Homo sapiens: one gene and its partner. The protein of the gene in region 1 interacts with the protein of each later gene in a pairwise test. Each region holds a gene or a part of one and is shown in the gene's direction. Other genes may lie near its edges.

Region 1 (4,135 bases):
GAAACCCCGTCTAAAAATACACACACAAAAAAATTAGTCGGGCGTGGTGGCGGGCTCCTGTAGTCCCAGCTACTCGGGAGGCTGAGGCAGGAGAATGGCGTGAACCCGGGAGGCGGAGCTTGCAGTAAGCTCAGATCACGGCCACTGCACTCCAGCCTGGGAGACAGATCGAGACTCCGTCTCAAAAAAAAAAAAAAAAAAAAAAAAAGAGGGTCTCGAAAATGTTAGTACTGTTTTATTTCTCAAGAATAAATTGTATACAGATGTGTTCAATTCCATATTTTCTATACTTATTTTGTATGCTTAACATTTTCACAATTAAAAAATTAATTTGGTGAGGCTGCTGGAGAAAAGGTACTCACACAAGCTGGCGGGACTGTCAATTGATATAACTACTTCCAAGAGCAGATTAGAACTGGTGGTATAGTGATGCCACTCTTTTTAACCTCTTGGATGGACAAAGATAGAAAGGTTGGATAACAGTTTGTGTTGGCAAACAGGCACTCTCTTTGCAGATGGGAATATAGATTGAAGACACCTCCTTGCAGGTAATTTTTTGGCAATATTTGACAAAATTGGAAACTCCCCTTCACCTAGCACAATTTCCTTGAGGTATTTATTCTAAGAAAATAAGCAATTTTAGAGCAAAGATTTATCTACACTGAAGTTTCCCATAGCAATCACAGTATTGTTTCTAATATTAGTAATACAAAAAGAAACAACCTGTATGTCTAACACTAATCGATTCTAATTTATGGTGCAACTGAACAATGGACCAAAATGATGCTGTTGGAAGTTTTTAATGATGTGGAACCGCTTGCAAATTATTAAGCTAAAAGAAAGTAGGTTACAAGATAGCAGGAAGAATAAACCATTAAAAATACCAATCTGTGCACTGACAAATGTTATAAATATTTTACGTTATGTTATGTTATAAACATTTTATAATATAAAAAAATGTTAACTGAAGTTACTTCCTGGATGAATTACAGGTGATTTCATTGTCTTCTAGAATTTTCTTTTCCAAAAATGTTGTGTATGCGTGTAATTATTATTTTAATAGGAGACACTCTCCTTTGGTGATATAATTTAAACAGGACGGTACTGACTGATAACCTCCCGGGGAAGGCAGGGAGCCAAGTACTACAGACTTGTATGTTTCCATGGAAATCTAACGCGCCTTTGATTATCACAGATTCTGGAGAAGAGTGAGGACTTGGGTTCACCAGTGCGTTCCCAAGGACAGGCTGGGCTTCTGAGGAAGTTGCCCACCCTCTCGGAATCTGGTTTGGCCTCCGTAAAATGGGCAGATCCCGCTCGGATGGCCCGGTTCCCGGCTTCCTTTTGCGGGTCAACGGCAGCGTCACGCGCGCGAGCGCGGTCTGCAAAGCCCCCAGCGCTGGGCGTCACGCGGGGATTGCTGTCGCCGCTGCCAGCCGCAGCAGCGACGCGAACTCGGGGCGCCCGGCCCGGGCGCGCGGGGGCGGGGACGCGCACGCGGCGAGGGCGGCGGGTGCGACGGGGGCGGGGACGGGGGCGGGGACGGGGGCGAAGGGGGCGGGGACGGGGGCGCCCCGGCCTAAGCGGGACTAGGAGGGCGCGCCACCCGCTTCCGCTGCCCGCCGGGGAATCCCCCGGGCTGGCGCGCAGGGAAGTTCCCGAACGCGCGGGCATAAAAGGGCAGCCGGCGCCCGCGCGCCACAGCTCTGCAGCTCGTGGCAGCGGCGCAGCGCTCCAGCCATGTCGCGCGGCCTCCAGCTTCTGCTCCTGAGCTGCGGTAGGGCTCGCGAGCGCCTGTCTCGCCTGTCGCCCCCCGCCCCTCCACGACACCCCCTCCCGTCGGTCGCTTGCTCACGACGCGCTCTCTCTTTCTTGTAGCCTACAGCCTGGCTCCCGCGACGCCGGAGGTGAAGGTGGCTTGCTCCGAAGATGTGGACTTGCCCTGCACCGCCCCCTGGGATCCGCAGGTTCCCTACACGGTCTCCTGGGTCAAGGTAGGTGCTGCGATACCCACGGGCTGGGGTTTGGTGGGCTCATTTGAAGACAGCAGGAACCATCTCCCCTAGGCTGGCGACCCTCTGTGGCTGCCAGGTGGGGGCGAGGGGCGTCTCCCGCAGCTGAACTTGGAGTACCCAGCCTCCCGTCGCGCCTCCCCCACCCCATCCGCATCCAGGTACAGGGCCGAATTAGGTTTTGCTCTCCGCAGACCTCAATCCCCTTCCTGTCACTGAAGGTGGCCTGAGATGAATGATCCACTTAAGATGTTTTGGAAGGGCAGAGACTCTCATTTGGATTAATTCTGGAGGCCACCTGTGGTTGTGGGCCAGCAGGTCAGGAAGAAAGCAACAGGGACCTAGATTTGGGCATTGGACAGGGGGAATGTCTCCAGACTTCTGATTTCTTGTGTTTTGTGACTGTGATGCCCATGATACATGGGAGGGGGAGGGGGCAATTTGAAAGGAAAGGCTAAGACACAGAAGTGACTTAGGCCATTTCATCCATGGTAGTTATCAGTGGTCATCTCCTTTGTGGGATACCCTTGGCTTCCTCCCCTAGCCCTCCTCCTCCTTCCTCTGGCAGCCTTGAGAGCATCAGGTGGATGCATGAGCCGGAGCCCGCATGTGTAAGAACAGGCCTTGCTGCTCCTACTGTAAGTGGACTGAGTGACAAGGAGGCTTTTTCAAGGTTTCCTCTTGACTGAAACATTCTCAGATTCTAAGATGGCAATGATGGTGTCATTCCAAAGCCAAGCAGCTACTGTTTGATATCACTGGTCCTTCTTTAAGTCAGGCCACTGCTACCACAGCACCTCCATTTTAACCCAAATGAATATGATATTACAACCTTACTCTGTAGCTCTCACTGATTTGCTGTCTTACCACGGGGGCAAATCTCTGCACTTGTAGCTTTCCCCAAAATGCAGGGCGTTCTTCTGCCCACCATAAAAGATACTATAAGAAACTGTACGTCTTTGGCCACTTAACAGTACAAGGCATCATTGCGGTGATCTCTTTGTGTGTGTGTCTCCTAACTGGATGGTCAGTTCCCTGGGGGGCAGTGGCTGTATCCATACTTCTGTGTATTCTTCACGGCACCTAATTTTTGCCCTATAAATTGCAAAGGTGCTCTGTGAATTCAGCCCAGCACTTCATGAGTTATGCATGACGGGGATGGTGCTGCTGCCTCAGAGCATTGTATTGTGTATAAAAGTAAGGTGTTAAATATTCCTACTTCATTGGTACCTTACTTACTGTGGGATCAGAGAACACAACAATTCCGAAATTGTTCTCATAGTCAAAACAATAGTATTTTTAAAAATATTGTAAAAACAATTTTTGAATGCTCACCACGTGCCAAGCTCCAAGGTAAATATTTACATACATTATCCATTTCCATCCATCGGAAGAATGGACTTAGGGATTAGTACTGTTACTATTCCTACTTTACAGGTGAGGAAACTGAGCCTTAGGGAGGGAAATAACTTGTCCACTTTTGCACAGCTAGCTAAATGGTGGAGTTGGGATTTGAACGAAGCAGTCTGATTCCAAATCCTGAGTTGTTAGAGGTCTATCTTGATCTCTGTTTTCTCCCTTAATAACTTAAGATAAAGAAAATCAAAGTGCCCCTGGGCTAACCAGGCAGGGACTTAGTTATCTCAAAGAACGGGGAAAAACATGAAACCACTATCCCTTCCAGAGAGTAACTATTTAATAAAGAAAACATTATTAATACCCCCAGGGGAGTAATTAAAAAGTACTCATGAAACAAGTAGATGAAATTTCAGGCTGTGAAGTTCAAACAGTTCTGGAGTGAAAGCTTCTTGCACAGGGTCATTTGGAATGGTCCACTAAACCATAGCAATTAACCTTGGACTTCTCCTTGGATGTCAGCTGGTGACGTAACTCGGTAACGCATGAGCTTGTTTATTGGACAGAATTCTTGCGAGATTTACCCCCAAGGTCTTTGAAAGCTCTGTCAAGAAAAAAAGGGACAGCAGTCTCTAGGCGTTCTTTTTTTCCTGTTGATCCATGGAATAGTGCCAATGAAAAGTCATACCGTAGTTATTTTTTGAGAAGTAAATGGTGATTGAGATTCGTGGGTAGGAGAGTTATGCTATACCAATAAACGAATCAGG
Region 2 (2,679 bases), on another chromosome or scaffold:
TGTTCACTGTTGATTTAGTAATAATTATAGTATCATAATAAATAACAATATAATAATATAGTAATGCTCCTGTAATTTAGTAATAACATACCTGACTCGCTCTCAAATATTTTAAAAGTAATTAACCAAGAATATCGCAAAAATGAAGAGTAAATTGTGCTGAAAGGAAAAGGGTGTATAATTAATTTCCTATTTTATTCTCAAGTCTATGTTTTTTAATATAAAGACTAATAACCCTAAATTTTTAAATGTATTTCTTGTGAGTAAAAGTTAATGACTACTTTTTTCTTCTTCTTTTTTTTTTTCTTCTAGGAGGGTATACAAGGAAAGGTTAGGACTTCCTCCAAAGATAGTGATTGGTTATCAGTCCCACGCAGACACAGCTACTAAGAGCGGCTCCACCACTAAAAATAGGTTTGTTGTTTAAGAAGACACCTTCTGAGTATTCTCATAGGAGACTGCGTCAAGCAATCGAGATTTGGGAGCTGAACCAAAGCCTCTTCAAAAAGCAGAGTGGACTGCATTTAAATTTGATTTCCATCTTAATGTTACTCAGATATAAGAGAAGTCTCATTCGCCTTTGTCTTGTACTTCTGTGTTCATTTTTTTTTTTTTTTTTGGCTAGAGTTTCCACTATCCCAATCAAAGAATTACAGTACACATCCCCAGAATCCATAAATGTGTTCCTGGCCCACTCTGTAATAGTTCAGTAGAATTACCATTAATTACATACAGATTTTACCTATCCACAATAGTCAGAAAACAACTTGGCATTTCTATACTTTACAGGAAAAAAAATTCTGTTGTTCCATTTTATGCAGAAGCATATTTTGCTGGTTTGAAAGATTATGATGCATACAGTTTTCTAGCAATTTTCTTTGTTTCTTTTTACAGCATTGTCTTTGCTGTACTCTTGCTGATGGCTGCTAGATTTTAATTTATTTGTTTCCCTACTTGATAATATTAGTGATTCTGATTTCAGTTTTTCATTTGTTTTGCTTTTGTTTTTTTCCTCATGTAACATTGGTGAAGGATCCAGGAATATGACACAAAGGTGGAATAAACATTAATTTTGTGCATTCTTTGGTAATTTTTTTTGTTTTTTGTAACTACAAAGCTTTGCTACAAATTTATGCATTTCATTCAAATCAGTGATCTATGTTTGTGTGATTTCCTAAACATAATTGTGGATTATAAAAAATGTAACATCATAATTACATTCCTAACTAGAATTAGTATGTCTGTTTTTGTATCTTTATGCTGTATTTTAACACTTTGTATTACTTAGGTTATTTTGCTTTGGTTAAAAATGGCTCAAGTAGAAAAGCAGTCCCATTCATATTAAGACAGTGTACAAAACTGTAAATAAAATGTGTACAGTGAATTGTCTTTTAGACAACTAGATTTGTCCTTTTATTTCTCCATCTTTATAGAAGGAATTTGTACTTCTTATTGCAAGGCAGTCTCTATATTATGTCTTCTTTTGTGGTGTCTTCCATGTGAACAGCATAAGTTTGGAGCACTAGTTTGATTATTATGTTTATTACAATTTTTAATAAATTGAATAGGTAGTATCATATATATGGAATTAAATTGATGTGGCTATCTTTGTTTTTTTATAAAGTAAGGCACAGTCATTCAGTCTTAGGTAAATAATGTACTCTCTTAATATGTTAATACTCATGAGAATTGGGATCTGATGCATCACCATTTGATTGGTAGCAACAGTGGTTGTAAAACTTGGTTGCTGAATTGAGTTGTTTCTATGTTAAGTGTCAAAATGATAGTGTAGGGAAAGTACAGGTGGTGGGGACATATGCATTAAGAATCTTGTTAGTGTTGCAATCTAAATAGAATGGAATAAACAGGTGTTAAGACATATTTATAGTGGTAAATTGTTGTAGTATGGTATTCTGTAAACTTGAAAACTTGATCTACTCTTTGTAGGTATCATTTGAAAGCAAACTTGAAAATGTTTTGTACATAGTACATACTTGTATAGTCCTGTGAGATGAAGTATGGCTATCAGACCAAAGGATAAGCCAAACTGTAGGTAGCAGAATGGAAATTATTATTTTGAGAGGAAAATTTGTCTTTGAATGGTGATTATGACTTAATCATTTTAAAACTGATAAACTTGACAAAAACCCTGTATGAAATAAACATGAAATTAATAGCACTGATTTCATTGTAAAATTTTAAAGCAGTTTAAAGGGTACCACAGGTTATCACAGTACTCTCAATGCCACAAACACCTCTTGTTCAGTATTCTAGAAATACTGAATCAGAATTCTGTGTTTATTATAATCTCAGCATACTGTACATAATATCTGCTAGTTAAACTTGGGTAATTGGTTAAGGTGACTTACTGTCTATGTCAATATGTATAGTTTTGAGTACTTCAAGAGTTTACTTAAAAGTGATGATGTTACTGGTATGTTGGCAGTGGGTGGGACTGAAGTAGTGTATCTATTATAAATTGATCTATTTTCTTAATTCTAAGATGAAGTCCAATTTTAAGCATCAGCTTTTAGGTGCAAAGGAGGAATTAACACATTAAATGTATACAGTTCTAAATTTTTGAAATAACTGATGTGTAGCATTTGATTATTGGTATTACCATTTTAGAATCATGATGTTATTTTAAACCTTTTTCCTGGGGACAAGAAAGGATAATAA

The links.
Region 2: the proteins of CD83 (region 1) and EIF4E interact in a two-hybrid assay, tested with the Homo sapiens proteins (one large-scale study listed by BioGRID and IntAct).

The regions. Positions count from the first base shown.
Region 1 is NC_000006.12:14,116,072-14,120,206, forward strand, and holds the start of CD83 (CD83 antigen isoform a precursor), read left to right. Parts: upstream 1-1,700; 5' UTR 1,701-1,740; coding exon 1,741-1,777; intron 1,778-1,878; coding exon 1,879-1,994; intron 1,995-4,135. UniProt on the Homo sapiens protein: Transmembrane glycoprotein predominantly found on the surface of many immune cells including dendritic cells or lymphocytes that plays various roles in immune response regulation.
Region 2 is NC_000004.12:98,878,776-98,881,454, reverse strand, and holds the end of EIF4E (eukaryotic translation initiation factor 4E), read left to right. Parts: intron 1-312; coding exon 313-427; 3' UTR 428-2,179; downstream 2,180-2,679. UniProt on the Homo sapiens protein: Acts in the cytoplasm to initiate and regulate protein synthesis and is required in the nucleus for export of a subset of mRNAs from the nucleus to the cytoplasm which promotes processes such as RNA capping, processing and splicing.